Linked DNA regions of Homo sapiens. The protein of the gene in region 1 binds, or shares a complex with, the protein of each later gene. Each region holds a gene or a part of one and is shown in the gene's direction. Other genes may lie near its edges.

What was found. The genes of interacting proteins can lie anywhere in the genome.
Region 2: the proteins of CRHR1 (region 1) and UCN are in contact, whole or in part, in a cryo-EM structure (PDB 6PB0), measured with the Homo sapiens proteins. Residues at the interface, in NP_004373.2 of Homo sapiens: Leu106, Asn107, Glu109, Lys113, His117, Val120, Asn123, Trp169 (codon at 851), Val172 (codon at 860), Gln173 (codon at 863), Ser177 (codon at 875), Pro178 (codon at 878), His181 (codon at 887), Gln182 (codon at 890), Thr192 (codon at 1,122), Tyr195 (codon at 1,131), Asn196 (codon at 1,134), His199 (codon at 1,143), Phe203 (codon at 1,155), Phe260 (codon at 3,832), Gly261 (codon at 3,835), Lys262 (codon at 3,838), Pro264 (codon at 3,844), Tyr270 (codon at 3,862), Tyr272 (codon at 3,868), Gln273 (codon at 3,871), Met276 (codon at 3,880), Ile277 (codon at 3,883), Tyr327 (codon at 4,450), Phe330 (codon at 4,459); in NP_003344.1 of Homo sapiens: Asn84 (codon at 5,596), Pro85 (codon at 5,599), Ser86 (codon at 5,602), Leu87 (codon at 5,605), Ser88 (codon at 5,608), Ile89 (codon at 5,611), Asp90 (codon at 5,614), Leu91 (codon at 5,617), Thr92 (codon at 5,620), Phe93 (codon at 5,623), His94 (codon at 5,626), Leu95 (codon at 5,629), Leu96 (codon at 5,632), Arg97 (codon at 5,635), Leu99 (codon at 5,641), Leu100 (codon at 5,644), Glu101 (codon at 5,647), Leu102 (codon at 5,650), Ala103 (codon at 5,653), Arg104 (codon at 5,656), Thr105 (codon at 5,659), Gln106 (codon at 5,662), Gln108 (codon at 5,668), Arg109 (codon at 5,671).

The regions. Positions count from the first base shown.
Region 1 is NC_000017.11:45,829,314-45,836,335, forward strand, and holds the end of CRHR1 (corticotropin-releasing factor receptor 1 isoform 2 precursor), read left to right. Parts: coding exon 1-8; intron 9-247; coding exon of another isoform or gene 248-334; intron 335-780; coding exon 781-901; intron 902-1,103; coding exon 1,104-1,257; intron 1,258-1,566; coding exon 1,567-1,627; intron 1,628-3,824; coding exon 3,825-3,897; intron 3,898-4,138; coding exon 4,139-4,224; intron 4,225-4,400; coding exon 4,401-4,536; intron 4,537-4,693; coding exon 4,694-4,735; intron 4,736-5,310; coding exon 5,311-5,451; coding exon of another isoform or gene 5,452-5,500; 3' UTR 5,501-6,515; downstream 6,516-7,022. Other genes in the region: LINC02210-CRHR1 (CRHR1-IT1-CRHR1 protein), read left to right, coding at 1-8, 781-901, 1,104-1,257, 1,567-1,627, 3,825-3,897, 4,139-4,224, 4,694-4,735, 5,311-5,500.
Region 2 is NC_000002.12:27,306,900-27,313,241, reverse strand, and holds UCN (urocortin preproprotein), read left to right. Parts: upstream 1-4,796; 5' UTR 4,797-5,082; intron 5,083-5,333; 5' UTR 5,334-5,346; coding exon 5,347-5,721; 3' UTR 5,722-5,842; downstream 5,843-6,342. Other genes in the region: mitochondrial inner membrane protein Mpv17, read left to right, coding at 133-248, 470-562, 653-748, 996-1,028, 1,291-1,343, 3,261-3,330. UniProt on the Homo sapiens protein: Acts in vitro to stimulate the secretion of adrenocorticotropic hormone (ACTH). Binds with high affinity to CRF receptor types 1, 2-alpha, and 2-beta. Plays a role in the establishment of normal hearing thresholds.

The DNA.
Region 1 (7,022 bases):
CGGCTCAGGTGAGAAGACCCCAGCACTGCCTCCTCCTGTCCCCAGGACCTAGAGCAGAAGCAGGGTGGAGAAGTGAGAGGAGCAGCTCTAGGTTGGGGTGGGGGTTGCTGGGAGAGGGTGGCAGGGGCTGGCTTATCTGAGAGTCTCAGGTCTCTGGGAACCTCTGGCAGAGCCGCTCTGCCCTCTCCCCAGTAGCTGCTGGAATGGTGGGGAGGGACAAAACTTGTCTTATGTCACCCATACCCAGGCCAGGCTGCACCCATTGGGGTGACCAGGCAGATGGAGCCCTGGAGGTGGGGGCTCCATGGAGTGGTGCCCCATTTCAGGTTCGAAGGTACCTGGGCCCCAGCACTACCGCCAAGGATGCAGGTGGCAGAGCCGGGGATGGGGATGGTTGGGATCAGGAGCCGAGCATCAGGGCTGGAGGCTGGGAGCAGGGCTGACCCCTGTGACTGTCCATCCTGGAATGGCAGGGAGTAGAAGGCACCCCCAGGGGAAGCGGGCATCGCCAGGAATCCAGCTGCCCTGGTCCATGGAGCACAGGCTCCATGGAGTGCCAGGCTCTGCCTGGGGCTTATGTCTGGGTGGGCTGCAGGCAGGAAGGGCTCCATGGGGCATTAGGAGAGCCTGGCTGTCACCTCCCTGTGTGACTTGGCCAGTCAGCCCCACCCTGTGCCTCAGTTTCCTCATCTACACATCTGGGCTGGGGTGATGGAGGTGGCCTACCCCTCATCCTCTCTCTCCTATCGCTCCCATCATCCACCCGCCCTGCTGCACCAGGAGCATCCGGTGCCTGCGAAACATCATCCACTGGAACCTCATCTCCGCCTTCATCCTGCGCAACGCCACCTGGTTCGTGGTCCAGCTAACCATGAGCCCCGAGGTCCACCAGAGCAACGTGGTACGTCCTGGCAGGGGAGCGGGGAGCAGGTCAGGCCAAACCCAGGTCAGAGGAGGGGCCCGCCTGCCCTGCAGAGGAGGAGCCCACAGAACAGGAGTGGGATCCCAGGGTATGCCCTGTCCTGCCCTGGGGAGGCCCAGGCCCAGGGTTTGGTGCCTCCCCTGCCCCCCATCATCATCTCTGGTTGGGGGTGGGGTGGCAGGGCTGGTGCAGGTTGGTGACAGCCGCCTACAACTACTTCCATGTGACCAACTTCTTCTGGATGTTCGGCGAGGGCTGCTACCTGCACACAGCCATCGTGCTCACCTACTCCACTGACCGGCTGCGCAAATGGATGTTCATCTGCATTGGCTGGGGTGAGCTGGGCAGCCACCTCCGCAGCCTGGGCAGTGGCGGCCGCCGGGCTGCCCTCTCCTCCAGACTCAGGCCAGCGGGCTGGGGGGCCTGAGGGATGGAGGTCGGGTTGGGGCGGTAAGGTGTGCACGATAGCCCTCTGCTCCTCTTGGGGGTGGGCGGCAGTAGAAGCACCTTGAAGGAGGTGTGTGAGTTTGAGATCCACCCTGAGTAACCCCAGACCCCCTGGAGCCTGGGCTGCACTGGGGTTCTCCAGGCCCACATCCTCCAGCCCCCGCTGAGGGCTCTGTGACAGCCCATCTCTCCCCCAGGTGTGCCCTTCCCCATCATTGTGGCCTGGGCCATTGGGAAGCTGTACTACGACAATGAGAAGTAAGTCATCTCCTTTCCCTTCCTGACCCCAAGGTTTAGGCTCCCAGCCCAGCTTGGTGACACTCCCCACGGGCATTGGCCATGCTGGCTTTTTCCCCTCAGGACCATGGTTTCTGCATCTATAAAGGGAGAGATCTGGGGGCTGGACTCATTCAGAGGGTCCCTGCCTGTGCTCTGCCTGGGTGGGGCTGGACAAGCAGGACCCAGCCTCCTTTATCTGCCTTGAGCTTACACAGGAAGCAGCCTGGAGCCAGACTGCCCAGGTTCAAATAGCTGTGTGACCTTGGACAGATTACTGCAGTGTGCCTCAGTTTCCTCATCTGTAAAATGGACATGCTACTGCCTCAAAGGGCTGTTGTGGGGTGATATGAGTCCATCTATATTAAGCATTTACAATAGCTCCTGGCACATAGAGTAAATGCTATATAAATGTGTTCTATTAATATTAAGACATCTTAATAAAAGAGTCCATGAATTTAATAGAAGTGGACCTAGATGATCTCAGAGGCTTCTTCCAGCTCTGAAGTTCTTTGGTTCCTTATGAAATGGACTCAGATGTTTCCAATCGTGCCTGGAAACTTGATTTCTGCTGCAGTGGAGCTCAACTTTGGCTCACATTAGAATCACCTGGAATGCTTGGAAAAGTACCAATGCCCAGGCTTCACCCTCAGAGAATCAGGCGCAATTGGTCTGGGGTGTGGCCTGGCACCCAGAAGTCTTGAAAACTGCCCAGGTGATTCTAATGTGCAGCTCAGATTGAGAACCACTGAGAGAGAGCGGGGCAGAAAAGGTGGACATGGATGGCAGGGGAGCCCCAGGACCTTCTTTGCCAAACAAGTGTTCCCGGGAACCTATCTGACTGACGGACCTGGCGTCCAAGTGGCCTCCACCACAGTGACAAGCCCTCTCCTCCCCCATGGAGGGGAGGGGGCCTGCACGGCTTCATTGGGCTGAAAGAGGAGCCTGGAAGATTATCTTGCGTGTTTATGTGGTTGACTCCCTCCTGACTCCCTCCTGACTCAGGCTGGCTGAGGCCTTGGGAAGCCGAGGCAGGCGGATCACTTGAGGTCAGGAGTTTGAGACCAGCCTGGCTAACATGGTGAAACCCCGTATCTACTAAAAAAAAAACAAAAAAACAAAAATTAGCTGGGTGTGGTGGTGCGCACCTGTAGTCCAGCTACTCGGGAAGGCTGAGGCAGGAGAATCTCTTGAACCCAGGAGGCAGAGGTTGCAGTGAGCCAAGATCGTGCCACTGCACTCCAGCCTGGGCAACAGAGTGAGACTCCATGAGTCTCAAAAAACAAAGCAAAACAAAAACTGTTTGGGCTAAAGGAGAAAGTGAGTCTGAGCGGCTCTGAAGCTCCACCTGGTGGTGAGAATTCAACACTGCAACAGAGAGGATCTGGGTGTGAGAAACCAGAAACGAACTTGCAGACCAGAGGCCCGAGGACTGGACCCGGCCCTCAGAAGCTGTGTGTGGCCAGCATGGTGTTTTCTGAAAACTCGATTTTGTAGCCAACCTTTAAAAAATCCAAAGGTTTCATTTACAAATCTCAATTTCTGGCTTATGAGATCTAGCCACTGGGGGTCTTCATACCCACGAGGACATAAGGGCTTCCAGTTTGTCTGGTCCCCACCCACTCCCCAGGCCTCCCTGGAGCTTGCTGGAGGGACACTCGGGAAAATGCAAAGCAATTACCTCCTGCAGCAGGTAGAACCTGTGCAAGTATTCCTCTCAAGGTTGTTCAGGCTGTGACTGGACAGATTCAGGCTGAGATTGCGAACTGCTGGGTGCCCACTGGGTGACAGGTGTGGTGCCACTCCCACCAGCAGCCCCCCAGAGGGCATGCTGGGCCTCAGCCACTGCCAGGGGACTGTGAGGAGGAGCCGAGGATGCAGCCTCGTGTTGGGCCCATGCCCGTTCCCAGCCACTCAGTCTTTCCCACTGTCTACCTCCTGCCCCGGTGCTTGCTTCCAACTTTGCATCTCATCACAGAGGATGCTGTCCGTTCTGCAGATGGGACAATTGAGGCATGGCAGTGGGATCAAGTGACTTGACCTTCTGCCAGGGTTGGAATTGGGACATCTACCTCTTGGCCTCCAGCCCCAGTCCTGTCCTGGCCAAGCACTGTCCCTCCCCATGCCATCGAGGTGGACGCAGATGACCCTTCCTCCCCTTTCCTCTGTGGCCTTCTAGGTGCTGGTTTGGCAAAAGGCCTGGGGTGTACACCGACTACATCTACCAGGGCCCCATGATCCTGGTCCTGCTGGTAAGAACCTGGGTAGGGGCAGGAGACAGGGCCCAGTGGGGAGGGGCAATCAGTGCCAACCGTGGACAGAAAGGACTCCTCTACCTAGAGGTGGGGGCCACCCAAAGAGGGGGCATGGGTCAGAGATGTGCAGGTGCTCATGAGGAGGAGGGAGAACAGCAGGGGCACTGAGGCCAGAGCTGAGAAGCCTGGGTCCCAAGCCTCTTGCACACTCCGGCCCGCTGGTGTGCTCAAATTGCAGATCAATTTCATCTTCCTTTTCAACATCGTCCGCATCCTCATGACCAAGCTCCGGGCATCCACCACGTCTGAGACCATTCAGTACAGGTAACCGGGTACCACCTTCCTCAGGCCTCCCCCTGATGAAACCCCTGCTCCCCATGCCTCTCACGTGCCAGAGACCTGCCACTCCCTCCCCCGACCTGGCCCTCTTTGCCGAGCCAGCGGGCAGCCCGTCCTGGGGTGGGCTGTGACTCCGAGCCTCCCCACCCGCCCCACCCCAGGAAGGCTGTGAAAGCCACTCTGGTGCTGCTGCCCCTCCTGGGCATCACCTACATGCTGTTCTTCGTCAATCCCGGGGAGGATGAGGTCTCCCGGGTCGTCTTCATCTACTTCAACTCCTTCCTGGAATCCTTCCAGGTACAGCCCTGGAGGGACACATCAGCACCTCCTTGGGTGGGGATTCTGCCAAGCAGAGGCCTGGAGGGCAGGAGGCCAGGGAGAAGCAAGGGGCAGCCCAGAGGCTGGGTGGGCAACACCTGCAGCCGACCTTTGACGCCTCCTCTCTCCTCCCCAGGGCTTCTTTGTGTCTGTGTTCTACTGTTTCCTCAATAGTGAGGTGAGGACCCGGGGGCCCTGCAGCGGGGTTCAGGGCTGTGAGGCCTGTTGGGACTGGCGATTGTCTAGAGCCTTCTCCTCCCCTCCCAGGGCTGCCTCTCTCCCTCCCTGCTCCTAGGTCCCTAGGGGTATGCTGCTGGGAGCCCCAGGGTGGCCCCTCCCACCTGTCCACTCCCACAGTGACAGCCCCCTCCTTTGCTCTCAGAGGCCGCTGGCACCAGGCTGGAAGCCAGAGCTCCAGTATCTTTGATGAGCCTGTGAAAACCAGGAAGGGCTGAGCCCTGGGCAGGGGATACATGTGGGTTGAGGGCAGGGAGCCTTCATGGCAAAGGGCATATGGTGCCTTCGTGTGGGTTAGAAAAGGGTGCCCCTTCCCCAGGACATTTGAGAAACCTGTTCCGACAAATATGCAAAGCAGTCGTGTTAAGGCTGTGAGTGTCATCCCCTACTGAGGACTTCCATGTACTCAGCTGACCTGCACAGCCGCTTACCTGCACAGCTGCTCGTGGCGGCCCAGGGGAGGGAGGGGGTCCTGAGCCACAGGCTCAGATGTCGTGCTCCTCCCTGTGCCCACAGGTCCGTTCTGCCATCCGGAAGAGGTGGCACCGGTGGCAGGACAAGCACTCGATCCGTGCCCGAGTGGCCCGTGCCATGTCCATCCCCACCTCCCCAACCCGTGTCAGCTTTCACAGCATCAAGCAGTCCACAGCAGTCTGAGCTGGCAGGTCATGGAGCAGCCCCCAAAGAGCTGTGGCTGGGGGGATGACGGCCAGGCTCCCTGACCACCCTGCCTGTGGAGGTGACCTGTTAGGTCTCATGCCCACTCCCCCAGGAGCAGCTGGCACTGACAGCCTGGGGGGGCCGCTCTCCCCCTGCAGCCGTGCAGGACTCTAGCTCATGAGTGGAAAGTCACCTACAGGACTGGGCCGGGCCCAGGGCCTCTGGCTTCCCTGCCCAATCCTCCCTGGAGAAGGGACATGGGAATGAATTGAAATGGGGCGCTGGACACCTACAGCAGCACGCATGTCCCTCCAAGGCTGTCTTCTCCCAGAGCACAAGAAGGCCAGCCCACTGGGCCCTGGGGCTGCCCTCGGCAACCGTGGGGAGGCCATTTGCTGCCCTGGGGCATCATGGGCAACTCGTGACAGCCTCTGACTCACCACGATGACGCCTCTGGACCTCGGTGATGCCTTCCGACACCACTGGGAACCAAGGGCCCTCACTCAGGAACCCTGGAGACAGAAGTCAGGTGTCATCATCAGACTTGCGGCCACAGCACTAGAGTCACCCCCCCAGGCCTCCAGAACCTTACTGGCACTGTGGCACTGCCACCAGCAATGCCCTGCCTTGCTGCCTTCACCCTGAACATTTAGTACCCTGCAGGCCAGGCCAGCTTCCCCTCACTTAACCACCCCATACCAGTCACCTCCTGCTCCTTTTCCTCTTTTGTGAGAAGATGGGGGCTGGAGGGGGCAGAGTGGCCTGTGAGCAAGAGCCAGGGGTGTCCCAGTCCCAGCCTCTGGGGCAGAGCTTGTAGCCCTGGATGGCCTCTGGGGCAGGACCACTAGCTAAGCAAGCCAGGAGAAGACCCCTGCCCAAGTGGCTCTTGGGACAACGTGCTGCTTACACTCCAGGTGTGGACCGGCCGCAGCCCCCACTGACCTGCCCATGTCCAGAGGGACTGGACAGCCAGGGCAGGGCTTTGGGGGGCACTAGAAGATGAGGGTGTCGGCTGTGAGGCGGGTGGCTGGTATAAATAATATTTATCTTTTCAACCAGCATTTGTGAAGGCCTGGACTCCACAGGGGGCTGGATGGAGAGGGTGTCTCACAGAGGTGGGGGCTGCTTCCCAGCTTTCAGGGGCTGCTGTGTTGCTGAGAAACCTGACCCCACTCTCACCCCGGCAAGGATGGTGCCAGGAGAGCCCCTGAGGGCCGGGAGAGGGGTGAGGGCAGGAGGGAGGGCTTCGAGGAACAGGTGGGTCTGGCCAGGGCCCCCTTAGTTAGGGACAGCTTGTTGTGAGGAGGTGAATTAGAGGGAGAGGAGGGCCACGGTTAGGGATGCAGAGGAGGGACACCATGGGTCAGGGGAAGGAACAAAGGAGACGGGAGTGTGTCCCAGCCCCAGGCAGGAGCTGTGCTGATTGGTGGGAAGCAGAATTAGGATGCTGGGCCACTGGACAGGCTGTGAATGCAGCTGTCTCCACTAGGGCCGCCACAAGAAGCCATCCCTGAGACCCTGAGGTTTCTTGTGCAAACTCGAGGGAAGGGGAGTACAGAGAGGGCAAC
Region 2 (6,342 bases), on another chromosome or scaffold:
ATTTGTTTCCACAATGAAGCCCTGGGGTTCAGAGTACCAGAGCCTCAGTGGAGGTCAGCAGATGTCCCTCCCTCCTTGGAATGGCAGCCCATCCCAGGAGATGTCCTGACAACACCTGTGTACCCTGCATAGGGTCCCTGATGGGCCTGGGTGACATTATCTCACAGCAGCTGGTGGAGAGGCGGGGTCTGCAGGAACACCAGAGAGGCCGGACTCTGACCATGGTGTCCCTGGGCTGTGGCTTTGTGGTAAGTTCTCCCCTCAACAGGGCTTCAGTGGACTCAACAGTGGTCTTAGTTCTTTGCCATCCTTTGGCTTCCCTTGGACTCTCACACCTAAGCCAACCTGCCGCCCTCTTTTTTCTTAGTGTCCACTTCCCCTATTCTGATACTTGGGGCAGGGAGCTTAGTGAGGTAGAGGCCTAGGGCTCCCTCACTGCAGCCTGCTGCTATCTGGGGTTTACTTCCAGGGCCCTGTGGTAGGAGGCTGGTACAAGGTTTTGGATCGGTTCATCCCTGGCACCACCAAAGTGGATGCACTGAAGAAGATGTTGTTGGATCAGGTGAGCAGGAGAACAGAGTGGGGAGGGTGAGCTGTGTTGGGGGTAGGTGGGGATTTCAGCACTCATAGGACTTTAATTTCTCTTCCCTAGGGGGGCTTTGCCCCGTGTTTTCTAGGCTGCTTTCTCCCACTGGTAGGGGCACTTAATGGACTGTCAGCCCAGGACAACTGGGCCAAACTACAGCGGGTGAGCTGGGCAGGTGTGGAGAATGTCTCTGGCTGGCGGGCTGACAGCCCAGGGGAAGAAGACAGGTTTTACAGGGATAAAAAAGGGGGTAAGTGCAGGTAGGGCCCCAGGCCATGGAGGAGAGGAGCTGAGGGTTATGGTGCAGGAATGTGCTCTTTGAACCCAAGTCTGTGTGTGACATTCATACTGGGAAGTGGGAGCTGCTTGGAGGCGCAAGTGTTAATTTGTTCCTTCTCTGTCTCCCCAGGATTATCCTGATGCCCTTATCACCAACTACTATGTAAGAGCTGACACCTCAACTGCTTGTTCTCCTGCTTCCTTAAGTCTAGAACTGTCCTGGGATTGGGGGGTCCTCCTGACATGGGAAACCCTTCCGTTGGGATTACTCTTTCATTCCCAGGATGGGCACCATAAATAGGGAAGCCATCACCCAACTGTTCACCTTTTTCTTGTGTGCAGAAGTTGGGGTAGGGCCAGGCAAGACAGTGAGTCTGGGGTCAGGTGGTGGGGCAGCCATCCAACCTTTACATTTTCTCTTGCAGCTATGGCCTGCTGTGCAGTTAGCCAACTTCTACCTGGTCCCCCTTCATTACAGGTATGTTGCACCCCTACCCCACCCATCAAGGAAGACCCACGTTACCAACAGTTGGAGACAAAATGATTCTCATTTCAACCTTGAGCTACCTTAGACCCCCAAACGGAACACTGAGCCGTGATCAGAGTTCCTCAGATTCCCAAGCGTGTTATTCAGAATGTCTTGCCATTTCCGGAAACTGTCCCAGAGTGTCTGCCCACTGACCTTCTTCATCTCCCTAGGGAGGATCCTGCTTCTACCACCCTTGTCTCCATCCCACCTGAGCTCCGTCTTTGATGGCATATCTGGAGGGACAGTGGCTGGGGTGCTGCAGCCTAGGTTAGACAGAGAGGTAGACCAGAAGGCCAAGTAGGAGCCTGGTCAGACACTCACAATAAAGACAGTTGCTGAACTGCACCCAAAAAGATAGTGGCACTGAAGATGTGTGGTTCAAATGCTTGAAGGTGAAGGATCGTGGGAACAGGGGAAAATATGGAACGCTTCAGAGGGAACAGGGCCAAAATGTACATGAGTAGCATAGCTAAAACGAATACAGACTGGCTGGGCACGGTGGCTCACACCTGTAATTCTAGCACTTTGGGAGGCTGAGGCAAGAGGTTTGCTTGAGTCCAGGAGTTTCACACCAGCCTGGGCAATATAGTGAGACCTCATCTCTACAGAAAATACAAAAAATTAGCCAGTCACATGGTAACATGTGCCCGTAGTCCCAGCTACTCGGGAGGCTGAGGTGGGAGGATCACTTGAGCCTGTGAGATGGAGGTTGCTGTGAACTGAGATTGTGCCACTGCATTTCAGCCTGGTGACAGAGTGAGACGACCCTGTCTCCAAAAAAAAAAAAAAAAAAAAAAAAAAAAAAGGCTGGACACAGTGGCTCACGCCTGTAATCCCAACACTTTGGGAGGCTGAGGCAGGTGGATCACAAGGTCAGGAATTCGAGACCAGCCTGGCCAATATGTTGAAACCCTGTCTCTACTAAAAATACAAAAATTAGCTGGGTGTGGTGGCAGGTGCCTGTAGTCCCAGCTACTCGGGAGGCTGAGGGAGGAGAATCGCTTGAACCTGGGAGGCGGAGGTTGCAGTGAGCCAAGATCTTGCCACCGCACTCCAGCCTGGGCAACAGAGCGAGACTCCGTCTCAAAAAAAACCCGAAAAAACAAAAAAGGAATACAGACTTATGAACCAAATCCTAAACATTAGGGTCCTTTGCAACACTCTTTGAAACCAGAGCAAGGTTAATTTAAAACAGAAAGATGCTACTTTATATGATAGTCCGTACATTTCGGAAGATGAAATCTCAGCTGGTACAAGACAGATCAATGAACTTAGAAGGGGCCCAGATAGGGGCCCTTTCTGTGATTAACAGAGCTATGCATGGCAAGAGAGCCGCTGAATATTTAGCCTTTGAGGCTCTCAGCCAGGAAACAGAGCTCTGGGATGGCACTAGAATTTGAGCCAGTTGTCCTTTAGTGCAAGCCACACAGGCCCTTCATAGGGTGCTGAAAGGGCTGGGTGTCGTGGCTCACACCTGTAATCCCAGCACTTTGGGAGGCCGAGGTGGGTGGCTCACTTGAGGTCAGGAGTTCGAGACCAGCCTGGCCAACATGGTGAAACCCTGTCTCTCCTAAAAATACAAAAATTAGCCAGGTGTGGTGGAGCACACCTGTAGTCCCAGCTACTTGGGAGGCTGAGGCACGAGAATTGATTGAACCCGGGAGGCAGTGAGCCAAGATTGTGCTACTGCACTCCAGCCTGGGCAACAGAGGAGACTCCATCTCAAAAAAAAGGTGCTGAAGGAAAGAGACCTAAACCTGCCAATCCTTTGTCATGATCCCTCCTTTGCCATTTCATGCTCCCATCTCCAGCCCTTGCTCACTGCTTAGCCTTCCTCCTCTTCATTGTGTTATTCCTGTTCCTTAGGTTGGCCGTTGTCCAATGTGTTGCTGTTATCTGGAACTCCTACCTGTCCTGGAAGGCACATCGGCTCTAAGCCTGCCTCACTCCATCGTTTCCACCTTGCAGTGATGCAGCTTGACCCTGGAACGGTCAGACAACCTCCTCAAAGTGGGCATACCAGTTTCCACGGGGTTGGGTTGCCGGTCAGAGCTTAAGAGGACTAGCACCCTGCAATGCCCCTCTTCACTCTAAAATGTACACTGACTGCTTTAGAGCCCTTGATAATAGTCTTATTCCCACCACATACTAGGCACTCCATAAATATCTGTTGAACCTTCATGACCTTATCAACTTTACACCCATATCCCAGCAAATGCCACTCATCCCCACTCTTCATAGACACATTTGTTACTCTAACCCTGCCTAGGCTTCTTGTAGCTCCAGCTCTTTAGAGACTCCCGGAACCCTTTATATGGTGCCTCAGTAAATATGTTATTAAATATGTAATCCGGAATCTGCAGTGGTAATGAGTAAGTTTTTAAGCAGAAAACTATTGGGGAGTCATTTCTAGAGCTGGAAAGAAGCCAAGAGACCACCAAGCCCAATTTTTTTTTTTTTTTTTTTTTTTTTTTTTGAGACAGGGTCTTGCTCTGTCTCCCAGGCTGGAGTGCAGTGGCGCGATCTTGCCTCACTGCAGCTTCCGCCTCCTGGGTTCAAGCAGTTCTCCTGCCTCAGCCTCCTGAGTAGCTGGGACCACAGGCGCATACCGCCACGCCCGGCTAATTTTTGTATTTTTAGTAGAGATGGGGTTTCGCCATATTGGCCAGGCTGGTTTCAAACTACTGACCTCGTGATCCGCCTGCCTCGGCCTCCCAAAGTGTTGGGATTACAGGCGTGAGCCACCGCGCCTGGCCAAGCCCAGTCTTACAAATGAGGACCCTGAGGTTGGTAGGAGGGAGGTGACCTGTCCACACCAGGAGTTAGCAGAAACTTGAACCCATATTTCTTTGCTGCTCATGGGCAGAGTTACACTGCTGCTATGATTCCCAGGAGAGAAACTGAACTTTGCTAAACTACTTTGGCAAACTCAAAAGCAGATGGGCCAGCCATTTGTGGTCTGAAAGCACTCGGATGCTAGAGACCCTCTGTTACATGGTGCCTGTCAGACAGCCCTACAATTTGGATCCTGGGGCTGGAAAAAGATAAGAATGCTGGGAGACTTTGGTTGTGGCAGACTGCCTCTCAGTGGGTCCCACTGTGTTGGCTGAGTGCCAGCGGTGGACTCCTGATGCCTGCATTTGCAGAACTGATAGCTGCAGGGAGGCAGTGGGTTCCAGCGGCACAGCGTTCTCACATTTCTGGCCACTTCTAGAGGCAGAGGACGGGGTCAGCACCATGGACAGCCTCACGGTCCCGCCTCCCTTTCGTGTGTCAGAACACGCGACCCGGACTAGTCTGGTCTGGGGACGGCCCTAGTCATTGCTGGCTGTTCTAAGCGGGGCGAGGGACTCCCGTGGGTCCCAGAGCAGTCTTTACGCCCCAGCCGGCTTCTCGCTTTCCTGCGTCCAGTGCTGCTTCCAGCGCTAGCCCCAGGGGCACGAAGGCTGGTGTAGGGAGGTGCGCCCCTCCGGGGGCCCGCCAGCCGTCAGACTCGAAGCTGTGGCTGTCATTGCTTCTACAATCAGTGCATGTTCTTCGCTGACGTCAGTCGGAGCTGTCCTGGCACTATATAAGGCTGGCGACAGCCCCGGGACAGACCCTGTGTTCCCCAAGGCGTCTTCAGCCTGCCCCGAGGGACAGAGACTGGAGCTCAATCTTGGACCGTACAGACGCTCGCCGACAACCTGTGAGTGGCTCAGAGCGTCCGCCCAGCCTCCCCCTGCACCAGGACTCCGCTCAGCTCAGCCACCACGCTCCTCCGGGGAGGGAGGCTGGGTGGAAGGGATGGAACAGCACTGGCGCAGTGGCTGGGGCTGGAGGGCAGGCTGCGGGCATTGGGCGGCGGCCGGAGGGGTCGCCGGGCGAGCGCGGGGAGGGGAGCGGCGGCCTGCAGCTGTCCCAGGCGCACCTCACCCTGCGCTGCCCCTGTGTGTCCAGGGCCGGCGGCACCATGAGGCAGGCGGGACGCGCAGCGCTGCTGGCCGCGCTGCTGCTCCTGGTACAGCTGTGCCCTGGGAGCAGCCAGAGGAGCCCCGAGGCGGCCGGGGTCCAGGACCCGAGTCTGCGCTGGAGCCCCGGGGCACGGAACCAGGGTGGCGGGGCCCGCGCGCTCCTCTTGCTGCTGGCGGAGCGCTTCCCGCGCCGCGCGGGGCCCGGCCGATTGGGACTCGGGACGGCAGGCGAGCGGCCGCGGCGGGACAACCCTTCTCTGTCCATTGACCTCACCTTTCACCTGCTGCGGACCCTGCTGGAGCTGGCGCGGACGCAGAGCCAGCGGGAGCGCGCCGAGCAGAACCGCATCATATTCGACTCGGTGGGCAAGTGATGGCCCGGTTTGGGGCTGCGAAAACGTTGACCCCTTTCCCCCACCCCAGAGTTGGGATGCGGGGCAGAGCCACCAGGGCACTGTCTGCGTGACTATTTTTTAATAAAAGTACTGAAGACCCGTTGGCTTTTGTCGTAGAGGCAGGGCAGTCACAGCAGCGTGGGAACCCGTGGGAAGGTGGGGCCCCCGGGCCAGCGGGAGGGGAACAAAATGCTGTGGGGGGCTCCGAGACAGCGGCTTTCAGCCAGGTCAGCCAGGTGCATGTGGACCCCAAGGGTCCCCAAATCCCCAGGACCTCAGAGGTCCCGGCACCACCGCCCCGCCCTCGGCCCTCTTCCCAGGGCGCTGGGCTCACCAGTTCGCTCCTGGCATCACAGAGGTGCCCAATAGGGGTTCATTTGGCTTCCGCCCCCCAGACGGTCTCAGGTTCTGGGAAGGGCAGGATGGTGGGCGGGTCGCCTTCGAAGCCCAGGCTGCGGGGTTGGGCAGCGAAAGGAGATACGGGTCTGGGACGCTCGAGTTCTTTATTGAGATCCTCCCGGGGCCGGCGCCGATTTGGGTGATGCTGCGGTCTCTGCGCAGATCCTCCCCGACTCTAGCGCGGGCTCTCGAGCAGGGTCG